2 separate regions of the Homo sapiens genome follow, and region 1 is linked to region 2. Evidence: fine-mapped expression QTL. A gene starts in region 2. The other region holds a variant in brackets. All regions are shown on one strand. Distances are between the middles of the regions.

Region 1 (13,320 bases), 470 kb after region 2:
ATTAGCCTGGCGTGGTGGCACGCGCCTGTAGTCCCAGCTACTCGGGAGGCTGAGGCAGGAGAATTGCTTGAACCCAGGAGGCGGAGGTTGCAGTGAGCCGAGATCGCACCACTGCAATCCAGCTTGGGTGACAGAGTGAGACTCTGCCTCAAAAAAAAAAAAAAAAAAAAAAATTGTTTGGTCCTTAGGATAAGGCACATTTTATAAAAGAAAATTTTAAGTTTTGGGAAATGGGCAATTACTTATTTTTCTTCTCATTTAGATTAAACATGAACATAAGAACCTGTTATAGTCAAAGTTTCATTGATGACATTAGTCAACACATATTCTTACCTCTACAAATATTCTTATCTCTGAAGCAAACACCTTATATACAGCTAAATTGTATGTGTAACAACAACCCCTGATTTAGAAAGTTCAACAGCTTTTGCTCCTTAAGAACAAAGTACTGCGTGTTGTCTGTGCTTATAGATCTCTGCTATAGAATCCTAGGAACATATTAAATAATGATGCTATAGTGTTAGTGCAATTCTGCTCACCTTTATGGACATTCTTTCAGTTTACTTTGCAGGATCTACTCAGCCATTAAATGTTGGTTTTCTGCAGGGTCTTCTTATCACTTTTAAACTCTTTCCTTAGGCCAGTGGTTCTCAGAGACCTGGGATCACCAGCGTGGTCATTACCCAGGAGCTTGTTAGATAGGTGAATTCTCAGCCCGCACACTAGACTTACTGAGTCAGAAACTTCAGGAATGGGCCCCAGCAATCTGTGTTTTAATAATCCCTCCAGTTTATTTTGATGGATGTTCATGTTTGAGAACCACTGTCCTAGCTGTTCTCACCTATCTATGCCTATGGCTTCAAACACCATTTCAATGCAGATAACTCACAAATTATCTCCAGTTTAGTCCTCTTCTCTGAGCTCCAGGCTAAGAGGAAACTATGTGAAACTCCCTAGGATGTCTCACAGATACCTCTAACTCTACACGTCCACAGACCAAACTCTTAGTCTCGTCCTTAAAATTCTGGTCCTCTTCCAGTGTTCCATATCTCATTGAAAATTACAATGAAATCCATCTTGTTATATAAGCCAGAAGCCTAGAAGTCATCCTTGACACATTATCTCCCTCAATTCCTGTAGCCAAGTTGTTGATTTTACTTCCTAAAGGTATCTTGTATATATCCACTTGTTTTGTTTCATTCCCACCATTCTAGCCTCTAACAGGCTCTTATGTACGTGCTTAATCCAAATGAGAAGAAAAATAAATAAGTGCCCATTTCCCACAACTTAAAATTTTCTTTTCTAAAATGTGCCTTATCCTAAGGACCAAACACTTTCAATTAAGGCTGTGTGATATCCATTAAAAACAGCATAAAACACAAAAAGATTTATATAGAACAAAACAATATCATTAATACTGTAAAAGGCTATCTTATGTGCAAATGTACAATTAAACAATAATGTCCTTAACAATCTTGCTTCTCGTATATTGGGTCACTACATGAACACTTTCTCCCATAATTTACCTAGATCTGGAATTTTTTTTAAAAAAAGTTTGCTGCATCAACAACAGCTGACCTTTATTACTCATTAATTTTCTTCTTATGCAATCTCTGCCAGTAAGTCAACATTTGATGCACAATATCCATTATCCTTGGTATGATTCTGTTTGAGTATACTACTACTGAAACTAAAATAGTCAAACTCAAGTAAGGATATGCCCTGCTCAGACTTCAAGTCTTTTGTTTTTACTCTGTATTTAAATCAAATTCAGTGAATGTTCTTTCTCTATATATCAATGTTTCAACATTTTTCATAGTCAGATCCTTCAATGTGTCAGTGTTCCTGTTCCCTAATTTTAAGTATTTTAAAGCCACTATATTTCTGTGCTGTTGTTGTTTTTTATAGTAAGTATAAATCTACTGCAATTGACAAAAGGTTTATCCAAACACAATTCTTATTAAAATTAAGAAATTCAGCAATTGAGTGATAATCCAGCAGTGGAAATTCAAAGTTACTCTTATAGCTTAAGGCACTTAGGTTGTTTCCAAAAGGCAAAGGGAATTATGATGTTAAAAAATAAATAATTCAACATAGTCTAGGTTAAAAGTGTAGGTTATACCTAAAAAGGAATTGAAGTCGAACATAATAGCAGCAACAATAAAAAATGGGGATATTCCTCATTGTTTGTGCAAGTAGTAAACTAAAAATATACCATGATCCTTGCAATAAATGTATTCACAAGAGATGCGTGTCATTCCTATTTGTTTCTAAATCATATATTCTCACTGAAAAATGGTTACCTTATAGGCAAAGTATCATTAGTCTAAAAAAATCTCACTACTTTAAAAAAAGTCAGTTATTAAGTAAAGGTTACTTTGTAATGTGATTATTTTATAATGTGAGTTATCAATTATTAATTTATCTGCTTTAAAATTGAAATTTTCAGTCTGTTAAGTATTTATACATTAGAAAACATTATAAACTTGAATAGAAATATTTCTTCTCTGCAATTCCATAATATTGGTATCACAGAATCAGCAATAGTATCTTTATATAATCTAGCAGAATAACCCACTTAGTCTACTAGGATAGTCAATGTAAATTATGTAGTTCATTTTCCTTATATAGACTTAAATTTAGTCTAATAGGGCAAAATATCCCTTAAGAAGGGTAATAAATAATCTGACTCCACTTTAGATATTTGATTGCTGATAGTTTTCAAGCTCTACCCTCCTCCCTCTCCCTCATATGCTAGAAACTTAATCCCAGCCTCAGCTCCTAAATATTAGAAAAACTAAGCTTTTTTTTTTTTTTTTTTTTTTTTTTTTTGAGACAGAGTCTCACTCTGTCACCCAGGCTGGAGTGCAGTGGTGCAATCATGGCTTACTGAAGCTTCGACCTCCTGGGCTCAAGCGATCCTCCTACCTCAGCCTACCAAGTAGCTGGGACCACAGATGCCTGCCACCATGCCCTACTAATTTTTTAGTTTTTTATGCAGACAGGTTTTCCTTATGTTGTGCAGACTGGTCTTGAACTCCTGGGGTCAAGAGATCCTCCTGTCTGAGCCTCCCGAAGTGCTGGGATTACAGGCCTGAGCCACCACACCCTGACCTCAAGTTATTTTTGGATCGGCAGGAATGCCTGTCTTGCTCTCCCCGGAAAGCATCATTATGCAAATAATAAACATTTTCATAGTGTCCTGGTGTGTATGTGGTGTCTTGACCTCTTAACCAAAGTTGAGGTTGAGGGTGGGGGATTCATTCCACCTCTGTGGCGTGACCAACATATGAAACACTGATTAAAAAGGAAAGGTATAGTTCTGAGCAAAATAAAGAAATATAGTACTGACAATGATTCACCAAGTCCTGTATTAATTTGGTTTCTGTTTTCCAAAACCAAAATATAGGTAAATATTAGAAAGAAAATAATCTTATGGTGTCCACTAGATGGCAGGGGCCAACTTTTATTCCTAGGAATTTCCATTCTAGAATACCCAAAGTTTTCAGTCCAGGGAGCTATCTGTTAACAATATACATGAATTTGAGGGTAAATTGTTAGAGATGTGATTAATACGACTGTTTATTCTTTTTACCATTTAGTGAATTACCCCTAGTGTCAAATGACCTGGGCTTTTGAGTAGCTAAATCTCTTCCACTTTGAAAATAAGAATGGGTTTCTTTTGCCCTTCCTCATCTCCTTCACTGGTAGATAAATCACTCCTCCACATCACGGGACAAATGTAAAAGTTACAAGCTCTTTCAGGGCAATATCTTACACACAGGTAAGTACTGTCTAGACATACTCTCTAGTCCACATTAATGAAAAATTATGCAATCTTATAGTTGGAAAGCTACTTAAAAAAAGCAATTTGTTTCTACTTCTTACTTCAGGCTTGAATACTTAAGCCTCCAGGACACAGTTTAAGATATTAAAAGGTGGAAACTATATCACTTTCCTCAATAGCCAATTCTGGTCATATATTTTATTTTATAGATAATTCAAGCTCTCCAGCTTCAACTTAAACACGTATTTTTGCAATTTTATTTTTAATTTTCAACTGCCTTTTTGTATAATTTTTTAAAAATACTAAGTTGTAATAATTATGTAACTCTACCACTAAAACACACTGATTTATTTAACTTTTCTTCATGGAATCTATTTTTATATCCCTGTGATTAGGATTTATTTCTCTTCCCTGAATCATCCCAAGTTTCATTTCATCTGTTCTGAAGCTATATAAACTATATGCTATGACTTATATGTAATGTATATCATATATTATTGTATTTCTTATATATTATATATAATTATATATTATATACTAAGATATATAATAGTAAGAATATAACCTAATAGAGAAAGTATGACATCTAGTAACTTATAGATACTTATCTCTTCAATATCTCCTAGTACTATACTGGTATTCTCCAAACATCTTAATTTTAGCACTTATATAATAAACTAAATGGATGACTTTGGCTTCCAAAGCTTTTTTCTGCTATTTTGATGGTGGTAGATTTTTTCCAAGTTCTTCGACTGAGTTTCTTCAAAATTTGTTACAACCATTAACATAATTTATCATACATATTCTAGAATATTAGCCCAGAGCAGAAGCAGAAGTCATTCTATTTCTTTTTGATCCATTGCCTGATTTCCTATAGGTCCTTGGTTGTAGAACTAAGTTAATGTATGTGGTTTTATTAAGTCAACAAAAGGGAAAAGAACAATTTGATGCTGATTGATTCTTCTCCCAAGCTTGCTGATGATTTTATGCACACATTCTTTAATTATAGGAATCTGGCTATAGGATGGGCAGCATATCATTTGAAGAACATTGTAAATTAGTAGGTATTGTAATATAGTAAGTTAGAAAAAGACTTGATAAAAATATATAAATCCTATGACTCTTCCCCCAAAGAAAGGTAACTGGTAATTTTAATATTTTGCAGATAAAATGAAGAAAGGTGAAAAATGAACTAAAGTGGTAAGCTAATTTGAAAGTAATAGAACTATTGTGTTAATCTTATAGAATCTATTATTCATAAATTCCAGTCACAGCATAATGCTGGAACACCGGTATTCTGGACAAACTATTTGAAAATTTAAAATTATATATGTACCTTACATTATATTTCTATTGTACAGTGCTGATCTGGACTTTGAACTTAAGGATGTATTTGTTGGTTTCTTCTGCAACATGGAGCCAAGTCAATTTGGAATTCAGGTGGATATATAAAATCATCTCAGCCTTGATATTCTACAAAAGAAATGGAAAAGGGAAAGAAAAAAAGGATGTAAAGAAAAAACTGAATAGAGTGTGTTAGCCATTGAAATGAAGAGCCAAGAGCCAGGTCACCAGAGTGATAATGAACAACAGTTTTGTAGACTGTTTATTAAAGAAAGAATGCAGTTTGCTTACCATGCATTTGAGATATTAGGTTGGTGAAAAAGTAATGGCAAAAACCACTATTACTTTTGCATCAACCTAATATTAATAGCTTTCTGCAAAGTGAATGGACCATGAATTTAGTAAACCAGCTATGGTAACAGCATACTCTTAAGTTAATGACTACACAGAATTACTTCAAAATACACAAATAGTTCTCAACATCAATAGGGCATGAACAGAAGAAATACATACATGTAGATACATACAGAAGAAAAAATATATCCCAAAAGGCCAGAAAAGGGTGGTGATAGTAACATTTAACGTATTTCTAAACCTTAAGTTTCCTAATATAGGATGGTTATTACATACATCAATTATTTTTATTTTGAAAACTCTTTAAAAATATCTAAAAATGAAGTTGCCAAGCATGAAATTGTTTAGCATATGGGCATCACAGAGCAGTATTTGAAATGTGGTCTTTTTAATATACCATTTTCTCTCCCTCTCTCTGGTATTACAAGCAACCCATAATTTTTCTAAGAAATTGTCATGAAATGGCAAAAGGTTGGACATCACTCAACTTATTTATAGAGGTTACTAAGATCTGGTTGTTATAATTATACCAATGCTTACCAAGTCACTTATTCTTTTTGAGTCACAATTTCTTCAAGAATAAAAAAGGGGAACCAACTATTGATATGCTGTGATGTTTGTAACATGCATTACAATTCCCAAGGGAAAGATTCTATTAAAGTTATATAAAAATATAAACCTAGCAATCACTGAATTAAAAAATCAAAATCTCATACATTTAATAATAATCTGACAAAAGGCCACATGGAAAAAAATGCTCACAAAGCCGATCCATTAAAAAAGGCACTGGAACTTTGATTTAGCTTGTATTAAGATAATTAATTGTAAGAATGTTCTGTCAGTGAAATGAAAACATGGTGAATACAATTTAGTATTTTTTCTGTTTAATTTGGAAAAGAATAAGATGAATGATATTCATCAGGTTATTAATACAATATAAAATGATTTGATATTTCATAACTGGTCTTAAAAATTTTCACATTTGAAATAGAAGATTTTTCACAT[TG/G]GTTGGAGAAGAGGGAATAGAATAATATGATGAGGAGTGATATTTACTGATGACTTATTATGTGATAGACGCTATGCAAAGGTAATTTACATGCATTAATTCATTGAATCATCACAACTGTTCATTAATTTAGTTAATATCAATTGAGCAACATACATTGTGCCACATATTGAGGCATGTGAACTGTTGGGGTTAGAAGTTCTGGGAACAGAGAGGTAGTACTTGTGAAAGCAGAAGACAGACATTGGTACAAGAGTCACAAAACAAAAGTAAAATTACGAGTGTGCTAAATGCTGTGAAGTAGAGGTACATAATGCTATGAGAGCTAATAAGTGATCAAGTTGGTGGGCAGGGAGGGATTAGGGAAGGCTTTCCTAAAAGAATCATATATTAAAGTGAGCTCTCAAGGAAGACTAGGAGTTACCCAGGTCATGGAGTATTATAGGAAAAATGGAAAACATATGCAGAGGTTCTGTAGGTGGATGGAACTTAACACATTAGAGAAACTAAAAGAAGGCCAACATGGCTGGAATGTAAAAACCACAGTGGTGCATGGTATAAGATGTGACTCGAGAGGTATAGAATCCATGCAATGCCTGGTAATTCTTTTTACGGATTTTTTTTAGTCTAAAAATAATGAAAAGTTATTGATAGCTTTAAATAAAGGGGATGGATGGAAAAGTGGAGTGAGGAGAAGGAGTGGTGATATGATCACATTTATATTTTAAGAAAATGTTTCTCTGATTAGAATGGTAGAACAGATTAGAGGGGGGCCAAAGTGAACATGGGGAGACAGGTCAGAGGCTATTGAAAGGGTTCAGGCTGGGCACAGTGGCTCAGGCCTGTAATTTTAGTGCTTTGGGAGGTGGAGCTGGAAAGACAGCTTGAGGCCAGGAGTTTGAGACCAGTCTGGGCAACAGAGTGAGACTCCATCTCAAAAAACAAACAAAAAACATTAGATCTCATGAAAACTCACTATCATAAGAACAGTATGGGGGAAACCACCCCTATGATTTAGTTATCTCCACCAGGTCCCACCCTTGACACTTGGTGATTATGACAATGCAAGATGAGATTTTGGATGGAGACACAGCCAAACCATACCATTTATATAATATAGTGATCCAGGTATATTTCTCTTTTCCAAATTTTTTGAAAGTTACCCAAAACTATCCATTGAATAATCCATCTTTGCCCCATTGATATGACAAACCCACAGCCAATATCATACTGAATGGGCAAAACCTGGAAGCATCCCCTTTGAAAACTGGCACAAGAGAGGGATGCCCTCTCTCACCACTCCTATTCAACATAGTGTTGGAAGTTCTGGCCAGGGCAATCAGGCAGGAGGAGGAAATAAAGGGTATTCAATTAGGAAAAGAGGAAGTCAAATTGTCCCTGTTTGCAGATGACATGATTGTATATTTAGAAAACCCCATCGTCTCAGCCCAAAGTCCCCTTAAGCTGATAAGCAACTTCAACAAAGTCACAGGATACAAAATCAATGTGCAAAAATCACAAGCATTCTTATACACCAATAACAGACAAACAGAGAGCCAAATCATGAGTGAACTCCCATTCACAATTGCTACAAAGAGAATAAAATACCTAGGAATCCAACTTACAAGGGAGGTGAAGGACCTCTTCAAGAACTACAAACCACTACTCAATGAAATAAAAGAGGATACAAACAAATGGAAGAACATTCCATGCTCATGGATAGGAAGAATCAATATTGTGAAAATGGCTATACTGCCCAAGGTAATTTATAGATTCAATGCCATCCCCATCAAGCTACCAATGACTTTCTTCACAGAATTCGAAAAAACTGCTTAAAGTTCATATGGAACCAAAAAGGAGCCTGCATTGCCAAGACAATCCTAAGCCAAAAGAACGAAGCTGGAGGCATCATGCTACCTGACTTCAAACTATACTACAAGGCTACGGTAACCAAAACAGCATGGTACTGGTACCAAAGCAGAGATATAGACCAACGGAACAGAATAGAGGCCTCAGAAATAACACCACACATCTACAACCATCTGATCTTTGACAAATCTGAGAAAAACAAGCAATGGGGAAAGGATTCCCTATTTAATAAATGGTGCTGGGAAAACTGGCTAGCCATATGTAGAAAGCTGAAACTGGATCCCTTCCTTACACCTTATACAAAAATTAACTCAAGATGGCTTAAAGACTTACATGTTAGACCTAAAACCATAAAAACCCTAGAAGAAAACTTAGGCAATACCATTCAGGACATAGGCATGGGCAAGGACTTCATGTCTAAAACACTAAAAGCAATGGCAACAAAAGCCAAAATTGACAAATGAGATCTAATTCAACTAAAAAGCTTCTGCACAGCAAAAGAAACTACCATCAGAGTGAACAGGCAACCTACAGAATGGGAGAAAATTTTTGCAATCTACTCATCTGACAAAGGGCTAATATCCAGAATCTATAATGAACTCAAACAAATTTACAAGAAAAAAACAAACAACCCCATCAAAAAGTGGGCGAAGGATATGAATAGACACTTTCCAAAAGAAGACATTTATGCAGCCAACAGACACATGAAAAAATGTGCATAATCACTGGCTGTTAGAGAAACGCAAATCAAAACCACAATGAGATACCATCTGATACCAGTTAGAATGGTGATCATTAAAAAGTCAGGAAACAACAGGTGCTGGAGAGGATGTGGAGAAATAGGAACACTTTTACACTGTTGGTGGGACTGTAAACTAGTTCAACCATTGTGGAAGACAGTGTGGCCATTCCTCAAGGATCTAGAACTAGAAATACCATTTGACCCAGCCATCCCATTACTGGATATGTACCCAAAGGATGATAAATCATGCTGCTATAAAGACACATACACACATATGTTTATTGTGGCACTATTCACAATAGCAAAGACTTGGAACCAACCCAAATGTCCGTCAATGATAGACTGGATTAAGAAAATGTGGCACATATACACCACGGAATACTATGCAGCCATAAAAAAGATGAGCTCATGTCCTTTGTAGGGACATGGATGAAGCTGGAAACCATCATTCTCAGCAAACTATCACAAGGACAAAATACCAAACACCACATGTTCTCACTGATAGTTGGGAATTGAACAATGAGAACACTTGGACACAGGAAGGGGAACATCACACACTGGGGCCTGTCATGGGGTGGCAGGATGGGGGAGGGATAGCATTAGGAGATATACCTAATGTAAATGACGAGTTAATGGGTGTAGCACACTAACATGGCACATGTATACATACATAACAAACCTGCACATTGTGCACATTTACCATAGAACTGAAAGTATAATAATAATAATAAAAGAAATATTGCCTTTAGTATATTTTTCACATATTTTTCACATATTTATCCTGTCTCTGGATTTTCTTATTCATTTCACTAGAATACTTATATATTTTTATTTTTGCCAGTATATTAATTATTATACATTTAGAGTATATTTTAGAATTTTTTGGGGTAGATTACCTTCTAATTAAACTTAGTATTTTTATCTGGGATTTCTCTCACAGTTTTTATTCTCCCAGATGAACTTTTAGAGTTAGAGTCAACCTCTGAAAAAATCCCATCAAAATTTTGATTAAAGTAGCATTACATTTAAAGTTAATTTGAAATATTTGAGATTTGTCGTATTTACTATATTGACTGTTCTAAGCCAGAAATGTGGCCATATAACTCAACATTTATCTATCATTTCCTCTATGAAAATTTTACATTTTATTCTCACACATCTTACACATTTTATATTGTTTATTCTTGTGTATTTTATCATTTTTGTTGCAATTTTAGGAAAAAAGTATATTTCCGGGCTATCATTTTATTGTTACATAATGGATGCCACAAATGGTGTAATTCCAACAATTTGTGATCTCATTTTCTATGTGTAGATAGAGAGCCTAAAACTGTACAGCTCTAACTAAAATTTAAATAAGTTATGGTTTAAGCAAAAATAACTGTTATTTGGCACAAATAAACACTTAACTGTTTTTCACTGTAATTCAGTGATAATAGATAGACTTACTTTCCTTCCTGGTACACTTACATTGTGAAGCAACCAGTAGAGAGTTGACTGTTTCACAATAAGCCAGTATATTTTCCATTTAAAAAAGGGGATTCTTCTAGACTGTCTTTTCTTCCAGAGCCATCTCTTGCATTTCCTATGGCCAAGGTAAACAACATTAAGAACATGATTGAAATCAGACGTTGGCTCTTTTATCTCTTCAGAGCATCTCAGTGTAATAGACATGAAAATTTAGTCTCAGCCTCAGAAATAACACCACACACCTGCAACCATCTGATTGTCAACAAACCTGACAAAAACAAGCAATTGGAAAGAATCTCCTATTTAATAAGAGGTGCTGGGAAAACTGGCTAGCCATATGCAGAAAACTGAAACTGGACCCCTTCCTTATACCTTATACAAAAATTAACTCAAGATGAATTAAAGACTTAAATGTAAAAACCAAAACCATAAAAACCCTAGAAGAAAACCTAGGCAACACCATTCAGGACATAGGCATGGGCAAAGACTTCATGACAAAAATGCCAAAAGCAATTGCAACAAAAGCCAAAATTACAAATGGGATCTAATTAAACTAAAGAGCTTCTGCACAGCAAAAGAAACTATCATCAGAGTGAACAGGCAACCTACAGAAAGGGAGAACATTTTTGCAATCTACCCCTCTGAGAAACATCTAATATCCAGAATGTATAAGGAACTTAAACAAATTTACAGGACAAAAAACAAACAACCTCATCAAAAAGTGGGCAAAGGATATGAACAGACACTTCTCCGAAGAAGACATTTACGCAGCCAACAAACATATGAAAAAAAACTCAACATCACTGATCGTTAGTGAAATGCAAATCAAGACCACAATGAGATATCATCTCACGCCAGTCAGAACGGTGATTATTAAAAAGTCAAGAAACAATAGATGCTGGTGAGGCTGTGGAGAAATAGAAACACTTTCACACTGTTAGTGGGAATGTAAATTTGTTCAACCATTGTGGAAGACAGTATGGCAACTCCTCAAGGATCTAGAACCAGAAATACGACTTGACCCAGCAATCCCATATGAAGTATTCTAGTATAAAGACACATGCACACGTGTGTTTTTTGCAGCACCATGTACAATAGCAAAGCCATGGAACCAACCCAAATACCCATCAGTGATAGACTGGATAAAGAAAATTTGGTACATATACACTGTGTAATACTATGCAGCCATAAAAAGGAATGAGATCATGTCCTTTGCAGGGATATGGATTAAGCTGGAAGCCACCATCCTCAGCAAACTAACAGAGGGTCAGAAAACCAAACATCACATGTTCTCACTCATAAGTGAGAGTTGAACATTGAGAACACATGGACACGGGGATGGAAACAACACACACCAGGGCCTCTTTGGGTGGTGGGGGGCAAAGGGAGGGAACTTACAGGACAGGTCAATAGGTGCAGCAAACCACCATGGCACACATATACTTATGTAACAAACCTGCACGTTCTGCACGTGTATCCTGGAATTTAAAGTAAAATTTTTAAAAAAAAAAGAAAGAAAGAAAAACATATTTGAATTCCTTAAATGCATGTATTGCTTTTCCTAGAAATCCCAAGGCAAATTTATTCATAAAATTAGTTATTTTATTTTTAAAATTAAGTGTATATTATTATATTAATTAAAATTTTGTTACAACTATATGCCATTGTAACTTGTGGTTGCACTTTTAAAAACTCATCACTCTGGCCAGACGCAGTGGCTCACGGCTGTAATCCCAGCACTTTGGGAGGCCGAGGTGGGAATCACCTGAGGAGTTTGAAACCAGCCAGACCAACATGGAGAAACCCTGTCTCTACTAAAAATACAAAATTAGCCGGGCGTAATGGTGCATGCCTGTAATCCCAGCTACTCAGGAGGGTGAGGCAGGAGAATCACTTGAACCCAGGAGGTGGAGGTTGCAGTGAGCCGAGATCATGCCATTGTACTCCAGCCTGGGCAGCATGAGCGAAACTCCATCTCAAAAACGAAACAAAACAAAACAAAACAAAACAAAAAACAAACAAAAAAAATCTCATCACTCCAGGGTCCAGCTTACAACTGTTATACTAATTATCAAATTACTGTTGCTTTATTCTGGACTCTCACACAGTTATACTAGTATGAGAAAGTTCTCCCTTAAGTTTCAGTTGAATACTGAAGTCACTATAATTTGGAGAGTTTATGCACAGAGAATGGGTCTCTTCACAAAGCCAAACCAAATTATACATTTTTCCTACCTTTTAAGAGCCTGTTACTGAAGATAACAGTTTAACTTAGATTTCTAAAACCATGCTATTGCTTATGCAGTATGTCACTTTGTGTGAGTTCACACATATATAAATGTGTGAGGAGGATGAGATATCTGAGATTGCAATAATTTTTCAAAATTTTTTCTTCAAACTATGGCCACTACCACTTCCTTCTACTGTAGAAGGGGGCTTTTCCAGATATACTCTTTTTCAGCACATTAGAACCACAGAATTGTTGAGCTAGAAGAGACTTTAAAGATCGTCTAGCTCAATCCTTTGCTTTATAGATAGAGAAATAAGGCCAAGTAATATTTGTCATGTTATTGTTAGTTGGTGATAGAGTTTGATCTAGAACGCAGTTCTCCAATTATAGCACCTGCCTATCTTTGCCCATTAATCCCTGGTGAAATTGCTTAGGATCCCTGTATTTTAAGAATCTGTACTGGCTTTATATTAAGGATGAATGTTATAAGGGTTTATTAAAACATCAATTTTGAAATG
Region 2 (13,320 bases):
CTAAACACTTCACATGCATTTTATCTAATGGACACACCAAATTCTTTGTTAGGGGCTATCGTCCATTTCATTGAAAAGCAACAGAAGGTCAGGAAAGTAACATAGTTTGTTAGGCCATAGAGCTAGTTCATGGTAGAACCAGAATGTAAATCCCGGCCTATCTGACCGCAAAACTACATTAATTAACGCTATAGTGTGCAGCTTTCTGGTATACTCTAATATTATCCTCTTTTATTTTTATTGCCAGAATACCTTATGTAGCTATAATTAATGTACTACACTATAGTTCAGGCCCATTTTAACTTCTCCATATATGTAGAACGTGTTGACTCTTATCCAGAGTCATAGCTCACTTCTACTTGCATGCAGACTTCTAGTCACCTATTCTTGAGCTGCTTACAATTTCTTCCCTAATAGGAAGTCTCATCTTCGTGCCACTACCATCGTCCTCTTTTGTTGAAGCCTGCCTCCAATATATTGGTATAGTTCAGGGATATCCAAACCTTAGTGTACATCAGAATCACCAGGAGAGCTTTTTAAAACAGATCCTTGGTCCTCACCCCCAGGATTTCTTACACAGTAGGTCTGGGGTGGGGCCTGAGAATTTGCAATTCTAAAAATTTTCCCAATGAGGTTCATGGATCTCACTTGAGTATCACTAGTATAGTAATGTGGCTGATCAAATGGTCTTTGGTATGTTTTTATTATATAAGTAGAATTACAAACTAGATATGAATTCTTACTATATGAGTCTAGCCAAAAGCATGCAGAAGAAAAAAATCATAAAAAAGAAAAAAAAATCAGAAAAACACAAAATATGACACACAAAATATATTTTATCACCAACAAAACTTGAAAAACACTGCATACGATTGATCCATTTAGAAGATCATGGTGCACATCAGCTTAGGAAAGGATAGAAGTATTATAGCAATAAAACTATTCACAAATTATATTTAACCAAGTATTTCCAAATATTTCTTAAACTCATTTGATCACAAACATTTTTTCCCAGGTATAGGACCCTGTAGAACTAGTGTTATTCAGGACAAGCTTTGAGAAATGCTGCTTTAAATTAATCTTTTTTTACAGGAGAGGTCAGTCATCCCTGGGGATTTTCCAGGATCATAGAGGCTTGGTTCCACTTCATTCAAATCACACTGAGGATTTATTTATTTTGTCTAGAATCAAAATATAATTTTATCTACTATGGTTTTTGGAACACTGGGATCAGTTAGTTCTGAACAAAACTGTGCCACTGGTAAAATTGACTTTAAGAGTAGATATTCAGAGACCATGAAGCAGAGATACCAAAAGTTTTTCGGGGATCACCTATCTCTATTCTTGGCATATGTATCATCATACACTTTATAGTCTGATATAGAATTTTGACTTGCACTGATGTCAGACATACTCACTTTGTAAACTCTGCCATTCATTTTTTTCCAAATCAAGACAGATGTTTTTTCATATATTATAATCTGAAACACTTCCCAGTCTAAAGTTTCTCAACAGCAGTTAAACAAGCTCAACTTTGTCAGAAGGCTGGAATGTAGTTCTGCAGAATCAAATGAATTGGACTCATTTAGTAAAACGTAAGTGATTTCATACAGTCATCTCATCTACTTTGGGGCTTCAGTTTCCTCTGAATGGACCAATGGTTATTGATCCTTTCCAGTGTGTACATACTTCTCCTTGATCATAGAGAACGCAGAAGTAAAAAGACTTGAGTAACTTTGCTTTAACTATCTTTTGCCATTGTATCATTAGCCCCGGGGGTGAGGCTGGGCTAGAGATAGACTTGAGCATCATCCCCATAAAATAGAAGGTGGAGTGCAGGATTAGTTATACACATGAAAACTACTGATGCTGATGAAATATATTTGATGATAAGTTTATAATTACCTTTATGATTTAATGTTTAAGATAGTTATATATATATATATATCATTTTTGATAAATTAATTACCTATTTGTTTTACCTTAACAGTTTCAGGTAGCTAAGCTTTTTATAAACCAGGCCTATAGCCTCCTCTGGCATTCATATTTTCTTTTCAAAGCCTACTATTTGACAAAAATTATAACACATTATCTGTGAATAACATATTTTAAAATCATATGCCTGGGTACTATATTAAAATCAGCAAACACTTTCACATTTGATTCTAATAACAATTTTATGAAGTAGGTGTGATATTGTGAAATAGATATTTGGTCTTCTTCCCTGTTTTCTGGCATACAACGCTTAAAATATTTGAAATTTCTAAAGTGATAAATATATTTTCATATGCAAATGAATTGACTGAGGGTTGGCATCCCCTAGGTAGCTTCAGGAGGGGAGCTGGTCACTGGAAAGACCAAGGCAGGATTAGAGGGTTGGGACTTTAAGCCCCACCTTTCTTTAGGGGAGAGAAGTTGAAATTGATAGCCTATGACTAATGATTTAATCAATCATGCCTACATAATGAAGCTTATGTAAACTCCAAAATAACTAGATTCAAAGAGAGCTTCCTGATGGCTGAACATGTGGAGGTTCTTAGAGAATGGAGCATAACGAGAGGACATGGAGGCTCTGTGCCTTGCCCTATGCATCTGTTCCATTTGGTGTTCATTTGAATCGTTTATAATATCCTTTATGATAAACCAGTAAATGTAAGTATGTATTTCCCTGAGTTCTGTGAGCGCTCTGGCAAATTAATTAAATCCAAGGAGGGGGGTCATATGAACTCTGATTGATAGCTGGTTGGTCAGGAGCACAGGTACAATGATCTGGGGCTTGCGACTGGTGTCTGAATGGGGACAGTCTTGTGGGACTGAAAGTCCTCAACCTGTGAGTTTTAATGCTATCTCCAAGTAGATAGTGTCAGGATTGAATTAGAGGACACACAGCTGGTGTCCACTGTAGAACTGATCACTTACTAGTTGGGTAGGGAAATAACCCTCACACATCTGGGGTCACAGAAGTGTTCTGTATTGTGAGAGTATAGAAGCAACTGTGTTTTTCCAACAACCTCAGTAGGTCAAATCAGGACTTTTTCGGATGACCTTCAAGACAACTCAGTCAAAATGTAAATCATTGTTTTTTTAAAAATTACCATTAAAGTGTGCAGCAGACATTTCTGTTCCTTGCTCTATCCCTTACTCCTATTATCAGTATGATGAGTTTAATTTTCTACTTTGTTCATGTATTTACTCATTTGAAATTTTAAAAATGAATTATTTTTGTAATCAAAAGCAATAAAGATCTTCTTAAGTCTGTTAGAACTGAATTAACTTGTAAAGGGTTACCAATTGTGTCCCCCAAATCTGTCATTGTAAATGAGGCTTTTTCAGTGGTAAGCATAAAATATCTCCATTACTGTGTGAAACAAAAGAACTGTTGGAAATTTAATTAAAGATTACCTGAAAAAATCTGGAGTTAAGAATAAGGAATCAACTCTTACTACTCCATTCACTAATGTTAGAAGGGTGGTATAATCATGAAGGATGCAGAATACAGAATGTCAATCCCTTGGATTTTCAAGTGTAAAATAGGGCAAGTGTTATTACTACCATAAAGACATATTTATATTTATTTCTTAATCAAAAATGTGTTAGTATGAACATCATCCTCATAAAGGAGAAAAACCAATTAGAGAAACCGATCATGTGATGCACAAGTGAGTTGTCAGAGAAGTAGAAATTTTGGTGACAATGATTAATAAGCCTTTCCGAAATGAACAATTGTGGTCAACACCTGCTTCATAGTTAGATGTGATTTGCGTGCCAGATAGTGCTTAATCTCATTTCTAATATACTATGCCTAAGCTTCAAGCTCTCTGTCCCTCATACCCAGAGATGGAGAACAGTGATGAATGAGGCTCAGATATTGGGTGAAGGTATCAGCTTTACACACAAATTGTAGCCAAACTGTATCAAGGAAGTTGGCTCAAAACACTATATATCCAAGATATGTGAAGGGCAGGTATGGTCACCAGTTTATGGATAAAGGAAATTTTTTTCTTCATCTCAATCTCTTGCTTTATTTAATAGGTCACTTCTTGGCTGCAGCAGATATTTACAGTATTCTGTGTGCTCACATGAATGTGTGTTTGTGTGTGTGTGTGTGTGTGTTTAATTTATATTTTTATCATGAATCAAAGCTGACTGGATGATCCCACTTAACCCCTATTCTCTGTTCACACATAAAGTTTATTCAAAGTGATACTGCTAATGATATTAGTAAGTTATTGATCTGATATTTTACCAGGCTGTTTAACATGTCACATATTTCTAATAAAATTTTAATTGATTCTTGAGGAATATCATTAAAATGAGCAAGGATCAGATTTGACAGGTCTGCACTCAACACACAAATATAAATGTAAATATGTAATAACTAACTTAAAAGTTTTTAAGGGTAATTTTCAGCTTTTTGCACACTCCTCAGCCATAAAAGAAAATCTAAAGATTCCTTTAAAGTCTCTCATGGCTAGCATTTCTGAAGTGTTTTTTGATGTTGACATCTAGAAGATTTATTAGATGGCAGGATACAGAACAATATGAGAATTTATGTAGCTGTAAAATGGAACAATTTGAGAATTTATCTAGCTGTATAATATACCAGATAAGAGCTTAGACTCTAATATGAATCTCCATATGTTAAAATGCCAGGCCCACCATTTACAGGTTATTTAACTTTGGAAAGTTTTTCAAACTCTCCATGTCTGTGCCTCAGTTTCTCACCTATAAACCTCATAAAGTCACTTCAATGATGAAATAATTATAATCCACATAAAACCCCTTGAACAGTACCTGACACAGAGTGAATAGTAAATCATAACACTTTGTTCACTGGGCAGAAAAAAAATGCTGCTAGCCCCCTGGATAACATTCTCTTCCTCTCTAGAATGGTGGTAGTATACTAGGTCCTATTGCACATATACACATTAGGAAGATACTTTTTACTAAAGTCACTTTGAATGAGAGTATTCTGGATTTAAGTGGTGCTGAAGTATATTGCATAGCAAAATCTGAGGGTAAGTAGGCATTATGATCAAAATTTCAAGTAGTAATAAATGTAAGTTGTAAACACATTTAAATCTCATTATGTCAGTTAAGGCATCTTTCAGGACTTGCAGCTCCCTTAATAACTAGATATTAAAAAGTCAATCAAACTCAGTGTTTCCTAGGGCACATATAAGGGCAGGAGAAATTCCCTTGCATAAATGAAAAACAACAAATGTGAATGCCAAAATGCAAAGCATTTGTGGAATCTTTAGGTTTTTCTTGACCATCCACCTTTCTATACAGCAATTCAATCATTTAGACAAATTTCCTTCAACAAATGATAGAAAAGAATACGAGGCTTTGAGTAAGATAAACAAGTCCATATATTAGACAGAGTCACTAGAAAGAGACCCCTTAGTAATCTTCCTTAACTGCAATTATCAGATGGGTTTTGCAAAGAATGCAAATTTATCTGTGAAAATTGGTGTATTCCTAGACTAATACTCATTATTTTAGTCTGGGAATCTGGAATAATAATACTTATGCTGGTAACTACCTTTGCTAAACTTAAGAACCATAAAAAGACACTTTCATATAACATGTGTGACTTTTTTTCTCTAGCAAGTTTTTTGCATTTTCATGTCTTTGTGAATTTTTAAGCCCATGTGCTTGGAAACTCTGGCTTCATCCCTGACATTCTACATTTCTGCTCTTCACAGACTCCTTTACCTGCTGGGCAGCCTTGTAGCTATCTCCGTGGCAAGGCAGGGCCTCTCCTGGCATGTAAACCTGCTAAGTGAATCCGCCCCTAAGGGCGTGTCAGTACCATTTCCTGGAGCAATGTCACAGGGTGGCTCCATTTTCCATTTGAGCTCAAATATTTTGCTGCTTCCTCTGTAGCTGCCAGACCTGCTCTTGCTGCTGCTCAGGTAGCTTTCTTCTCTTCCCGGCACCACTATTGGCAGAGGTTTTGATAAGCGGTTTCCACACGTGTGTCGTGTGTCTGTCTGCCTGCCTGACTGCCTGCTTGCCTGTCTTTTTTTTCCATTATATTTCTCTGTTTGTTCCTTAGGTAGAACATCTGGGAGGTCCCTTGCTGACCACTGGAAGAAGATGAGCTCGAGCTATTGGAGTGAGACGAGCAGCAGCAGCTGTGGAACCCAGCAGCTCCCAGAGGTGCTGCAGTGCCAGCCCCAGCATTACCACTGCTACCATCAGTCAAGCCAAGCCCAGCAGCCTCCAGAAAAAAATGTAGTGTATGAGCGAGTGAGGACCTACAGTGGGCCCATGAACAAGGTGGTGCAGGCCTTGGACCCCTTCAACTCACGGGAAGTGCTCTCCCCTCTCAAAACCACCTCCTCCTACCAAAATTTGGTTTGGAGCGACCATTCTCAGGTACAACAAAGAAAGCTATGCCAGACTAGTGGAGAAAGGCAATCTTCAACCTGATTTCTCTTCCTTTCTGCTTCTTTGCCTCTATTCCACAGGATATCTTTTGGTGGATTGCAGTTATATATGCCTTGGATAGTCACCCAAATTCATCTCTTGGCTGTTATTTCACTTACTAGTGTCTGTGGTTGTTTGTTTCCGGGTTTCACTGATTTTCATAATCTAACCATAGTATAGGAAGGCTCATTTTCTGTTTGATCTGACTGAAAGATCTGATCCAAGGAATCCCTTTGCCCCTACTGCAAAGCAGTTCTCAACTTGAGTACAGTAGATTTTTATTAGAACAAGTTCCTACTGATTAATTTCATATCAGAAGCAAACAGGTTTTTTTTGGTATCAAATATGGTGATACAGGTACTGTGGCATGTCTGAGTGATAAGCAATTATTTGTGCTCAGCAAATAGTATAGCTGCTCCAGGATAAGTGAGAGGTGCAGATGTCTGAATTGTCATATGTGTTTCATCTTCCAAGAATGACACACTTTTTATCGTACAGCCTAGGTGAATAATTTATGGAATACTTGTAGAAAGAGTACTGGAAGAGTTGATATAGGATTGAGGAAGGCAAGATGTAAGCAATTGTTACATGAAAGCTACAAAAGATGGAACTCTAAGACATCCCATAAAATGAAATACGTTTGTTTCTTAAGAGTTATTCTTAGCACCAATACCTGTGTTAATAACCTTCCCAATAAATACAAGGTAACCCTGCAAGACTGTATAAAATTAACAGCTTTATGTGTATTTTATCCTCTGACTCCTTTTACATTAAATTTGCATGTTTTAAGCTTTCTGGAAAATTCTGTCCAAACTGAAATTATGTTTTTAAGATACAAAAATCTCAAAAAGCAGTCATTGGGATATGATGCTATGTTACATTATTATTACCAATCAGGAGTAATACATATTATTTTTCCAAAACCCACAAATTTGAGTAGAATATAAAGTAACATTTCTCAACTGGTTGAGAAAAACTCCACTTATACTGAGGTCAAGGAGAAGAAAAATATAAAGGTCATAAATACCAGTTTGCATTAGTGATAAAAATAATGCAAATGTGCACTCCAATATTCATATTGAGATGCTAATGCAGAACAAAATGAATGCCACCTTTGTTTTATTGTAGCTCAAAAACAATGATGTGCAGATTAAAAACAATTACTATTATCTTAGGAATCCTAAAATCATCCTATCTGCCATAGCTATTTAAACATATTTAGACCCCTTTTTTGTCAACTTGCTAGTAAAAGAAACATAAATAGATATTTAAAAGCTGAAATTTGACAAATTATAAATATTGGCTACCGGACAATTTTTAGGAGTATGTTTTATTATTTACTCCTTGGTTCAGCTTCCCCTTTCAATAACTCAGGATCAAGTTGGTTGAGCTTTTTACAAGATTTTCCTTATTTTACCTGGCATTTGCCAAAGTGATCCTTAAAAATGGACTATCTCCTTCCTAAAATGTAGCTCGCCACACAGGAGTTTATAAACAACTTAGGGCTAGAAAGTGCAGCTGCAGAAACTGGGATAAAAGATTAGAATGGAGGGCTCTGTGAAGTCTGAAGTTATTTATTATTGAAAAGGAAGAAAAGTAAGTGCTGTTAGAAAATGAGAAAAGTGAAAGTTAAGCTATGTGGTAAAGGGAAAAAAAGAAGTATTAATTCCTTAGTGAAACAAGAAGAAAGAATATTTGACTATAAATTTTCAAACTGAGTTGGATATCAAAGGGCATTCACAAATCCACTAAAAGAGAACTTGGCAAGACAGCTTTTAGATAGCTGTCACAAAGAATATGATGAGGAAACTCTTCTATTTTATTTTCCTTTCTCCCTGTTTATTGATGGAATGGCATTGTGGCATCATGTAAAGTAGGACCTAGATTTGATCTGAAATTACCTTTATGCTAACGAAATGAGTATAATGTGATGGTATGTATAATGTACCATGACAGGCATGAGCAAGCAGTACATATTACTCAAAAACCCTTAATTCACTTTATGTTTCAATAAAGTCTATCCTTAATAAACCACGTTTCAGATGAGTTGATGTGTAGCAATTAGCCTAATACCAGAGTTTGTGACCATGGCAGCAAGAAAAATTGATTTTACAATCAATGGTTGATCATCATGAATTCAGTTAAACTTTTACTTTGTCTTTGTTTTTGTTTTGTTTTGTTTTGTTTTTTGCCTTTTGGTTTTTGGAAGACATTCAGGGAATTAATGAGATTTTAAAATAAATATTACCAGTAGTAAAATATGTTGCCTTTGAGAAACCAAAATTGATGCTACTCTGCTTTGCTTCCTGAATCATAATTTTAGGTCATGTAGTAGGCATTTTCGATTTAATCAAATGTTTTCTGTAGCACTTTATTTTCCATTTCTAGCTTTTGAGTACATGCTTTTATTCTCTTAACCTCTTGTGCACTAAAATGGTGTTTATGGATATAAACATATTTTAAATTTATCTAGATATATAATGTTACTTTGTTTCTTTAATTAAACATATATTTTATGTTTTTTGGTTATTATTTTGTTTGATTGATAGAGTGTTTCTCAGAGAAAATTAAGTGTAGAAACCAGTTGCTGGTGAAATTTTCTAAATTAATGGTAGAATTAAAATTACTGGGTTTATCTGCATGAACACGTATAGTCAAACACAGATATAATCAAGGTCTCAGATGCATTTTAGAACTGAATGTGGTCTTGCAAATAAATAGAGTTCTAGAAGCTTAAAGTAAAACAAAAATTCTTAGTTCAATCTTTTACAAAGCTTAGCTGTTAACCTACCATCATTAACTCAAAATGAAATGCCTTAAATGAGCAACATTGATATGAATTACTCATTGGGCTAACATTCTTTCCTTCCACTAATTAAGGTTTTCATGAAGTTCGAGGTATTTTTCATGCATACAGAGCAGCTGTATACATGAGAGAGAAAAAATGTGAGAGAGAAAAAATGGATTAAAATAAAATATTTTTAAATACCAGTCATTCACTGAATACATGTTTATTAAGTGCCTATTTTTTAGCAAACACTGTGATTTTCTGGATAAATACCATTAACCTGTCCAGGGAGAGTTCATTTTTAGGACAGACATACAGAGCCTGGTCTGTAGGTGTCCCATGTGTCTATCTATATTTCATTTTAAAGGAGTATTTTGTGTTGTGACCATCAGCATTTTATCAAGTAAAACATGCTTTTGTGAGAGAAGGATTATTTTAGTGTATATGTTATAAGGGTTGCCATTCTTTTGAATTTGAAACTTGCAAAGAAACTCTAGAGAGCAGCCTGGGGGAAAATGTGTGTTTACGAATGACCTCTGTTCTCAACAATTATTCAGCTGGGGCTTACCTTTGTTTATATGATTTTTTTGTGCTTTTTCTTTGGTTGCAAAGATTGTGGATAACTCTTCTCTTCCACTATCAGAAAAGTTTCCCGTTCTGTGGGGAGGGGTGTGCTGCTTTGATAAATTGTTGTTCAAGGGCGTAGTCACTAAAGTGAATGATTGTTCAAGGAAGTGCGCTGCCTGAAAAAAGAATGAGGTCATAGGATAAAGGGGTTGCATTTTCAGCTTTGGTCTCCTCTTTTGTGCTTACAATTAAATGAAGCTATAGAAATTGGAGAGTGCAACTAATTGCTGAGTGAAAATGCCCATGGCAATTGTATCTTGTTTAACGGAGGTCTGATAAATTGCTGGGCCTGTTTTCAGTCAAAGGCACTCATAAGCTGTCACGGTGTGTGTGTGGCAAGATATGAGGGTGGCAAGTGGAAGAGAGGGAAACTGTCCTTTCAAGTTTATTTTCTTGACAATTCATGACAAAACAATTGGGAAATTTGCCATGCTCTTAAGCCCTATTTAAAAGTTAAAACTTTTATTAATAAATATATTTCAGCCAACTTTTTCTTCAGACCAGGGGCTATCCCAGTAGAGGTCATTTTTTGATTTTCAATAAAGTATATATACTCATAATTTTTAAAGACAGAAAGCATGCACTGCAAAAAAGACTGTGTATTTTATTTTCTCTCTGTCTCCTAGTTTTCTTCAGAAAAAGAAGAGAAAGAACCCAATATGGACCTCTTAAATGAGGGATTTGGGTTGGAGAGAAGGAGGAACAGGAAGTAGTTCTATTATACATTCGGTTGCTTTCTTTGTATGACAACAGAAACACAGATTTTATCCTAAATCAAAGAAGTGTTTATTTCATCTAAAGAGAGATTATTATAAATAACATGTTTCTTGCTATATAAGTTGAGTATAACATCTCAACAATAACCTCAGACAGGTGTTTAACTATGTTACATGGCTTTGAAAGATCCTAACAAAAACATCTCCCATACTATTCAGGGAATTTATTCAAATGGAGGTTTGCCTTGGCAAATTCTGTCAGCATAAATGTCAGGTGGTTTTTAAAGATATTGCTTCTTTTGAAACTGTTCAGCCTAGAGTATTTGTAACTCACCATTATTACCTTCAGTGATTCTCATAGTCATTGGGAGTAACAGGAGCATACACAAACCTTCCATGGTTTTCCTTCATGGAATATTATACTGTATATTAGTCTTTATGTAAAGTTTTAAAATTCAAATTAGACAACATAAAGAGTTATACTTTCATGTTAGCAAGTTTCCAAATATTTAGAAACAAAGCCTGCACTACGTATGTAATATTCTCTATGATTTAATTCTCATTACCTTCAGTCTTTCTTGTATGTCTTACACCAGGCTTTTGAGCTCTTTGACCACAGCTATCAACAGGAAAATGAAGCCAACAGGTCTTGACTGAAGAGGTTCAGATTTTGCAGTCTAAAGACCAATTGCAGAGAAAATTGTATGAAGAAAATGCCCAAAAAGGTCTATGTGGAATGTCTCAGGAAGAGCTGTAAATAAATATGCAATCATGAGGTGAACTTTGGCAGAATAGAACTATGAAGCAGTCTAGTTGGAGTCCCTAGGAATATTAATTTTAAAATCTCCACAACTTTAATTACACCTAAGAATATGTTCTCTAGAAAAGTTGCTTAAATTCCCTATACACATCCCATATCACTCCTCTGCTGCAAAAACCTTCAATGACACTAAGTATCTATAAATTGCTTAGTCTGACTTTCAAGGCCCTCCATGTTAGGGCTCCTGTGGAACTTCCTGGAACTCTCCTTCTGGTGTCCTATGTTTTAGCTAAGTGTAAATGATTGTTCTCTAAATAAAGTCCCCAATTTTCCACAGCTATGTCTTTCACTCCATTGCTCTTACATCTGAACTGCTCCTGCTCCTCACCCTCACCAATCTAGACACCCTGAAATTATACAAATTTTTCAAGCCTTTCCTCAAGTGTAACCTTCTGATCCTCTGATTGTCCCAGGTTGAAGTTATCTCTTAGCCCTCAAAACTTACCTAGTGAGCTTCTTATAGGTCTTATGATAGTCTACTTAATTCCTATTTGTACTCATAGTGTTTATGCCCTACATGATTATAACCATGAGAGGGTAGAGATTATATTCTAACATCATTTGTATCTCTTTCAATGCCACTACACAATAAGTAGTAAAGAAACTGCAAGTTAGTAACTTAGTCACATATATAATCAATCCAGTGAAAATAATATTTCATATTAATACATGGGTTTTTTGTTTTTCACAACTCTTCCATGTATATGATTATCTAGTAAACAACTTGATAGAACCTCAACAATTAGATAAAACATGCATTATTATGTTTATTGTACAAATTGTACGATGTACAAATAAAGACAATATTCATTGTGTATTATTTATCTGTTAAACAAATAAGGAAATTGAGACTCGAATAGCTCAAAATAACTTGCCTATTTAGTACAGCTGGTTAGTGAATGCCCTGAGTTTAAAAACCAGCTCCTGATATTTTCATTACATCAGCTATCTCCCTTAATTAACTTTCGATATTCATGATTTCAGTTTAAATTAGTTCACATTTTTTATTTCAACAAAACATTTGATGATTACCCTTACTGTATATTTTCCCATTCTAATGTTCCATTATCAGAATGGAAAATATCAAAAATACATTAGAGGACAAAAATAGTTTTCCCTCTAGTTTTCAAGGTCTTGCTCAGAAATAATCCTAGAATTCAGGGTATATATTAAGTTTTTAAGGTTTTCTTTCTTTCAAAGGAGAATAACACCTTTTGAGCTTCTGCCTTCCCTTCTTTCTTTACTGCACTGAGCTACTCAAAAGCATTTTCACTAAAGTAAATAACTGAGACATTTAGGCCATTTGCACATCATCTGATTTAACTCTGAAAACAGCTTATATATAAAACTGCCCTTTCTGCACATGTACCCCAGAACTTAAAGTATATATATATATAGTATATATAATATAATATATATAAATATGAATAAAATATATTTATATATATATATACTTTAAGTTCTGGGGTACATGTGCAGAAAGGGCAGTTTTGTTACATAGGTATAAACGGGCAATGGTGGTTTGCTGCACCCATCAACCCGTCACCTACATTAGGTATTTCTCCTAATGTTATCCGTCCCCTAGGTCCCCATCTTCTGACAGGCCCCTGTGTGTGATGTTCCCCTGAAAACAGCTTTTTTAACAAATAGGTGGAAATAAGATATACTTTTATGAATAATGAATTCTCTAGGGAAACCAGAGTTTCCTAGCTCAGATTTAGTGTGTACAAAGGTATGGACAATTATCTCAAGTGATGTAATGAAATTATCCCCAAGCCCACATAATTATAAACCAAATTCTTTTTCATTTCTTTTTTTTTTTTTTTTGAGACAGAGTCTCGCTCTGTCGCCCAGCCTGGAGCACAGTGGCACGATCTCGGCTCACGGCAAGCTCTGCCTCCCAGGTTCACGCCATTCTCCTGCCTCAGCCTCCT

What was found. PIP is the estimated chance that this variant, and not a neighbour inherited with it, causes the effect. A credible set is the group of variants that fine-mapping cannot tell apart.
Region 1: its variant is the best candidate, but not a certain one, in a credible set for the expression of POF1B in atrial appendage (GTEx, PIP 0.84).

Annotation. Positions count from the first base shown.
Region 1 is chrX:84,897,671-84,910,990 of GRCh38, reverse strand. No RefSeq gene overlaps it. Among named protein-coding and RNA genes, the nearest start is that of APOOL, 100 kb to the left of the region's middle. The variant TG/G (reference allele first, on the strand shown) is at 6,491.
Region 2 is chrX:85,372,237-85,385,556 of GRCh38, reverse strand. POF1B (POF1B actin binding protein) reads left to right here and starts at 5,892. Exons shown (of 17, transcript NM_024921.4): 1 at 5,892-5,918; 2 at 6,062-6,384. The coding sequence starts at 6,103.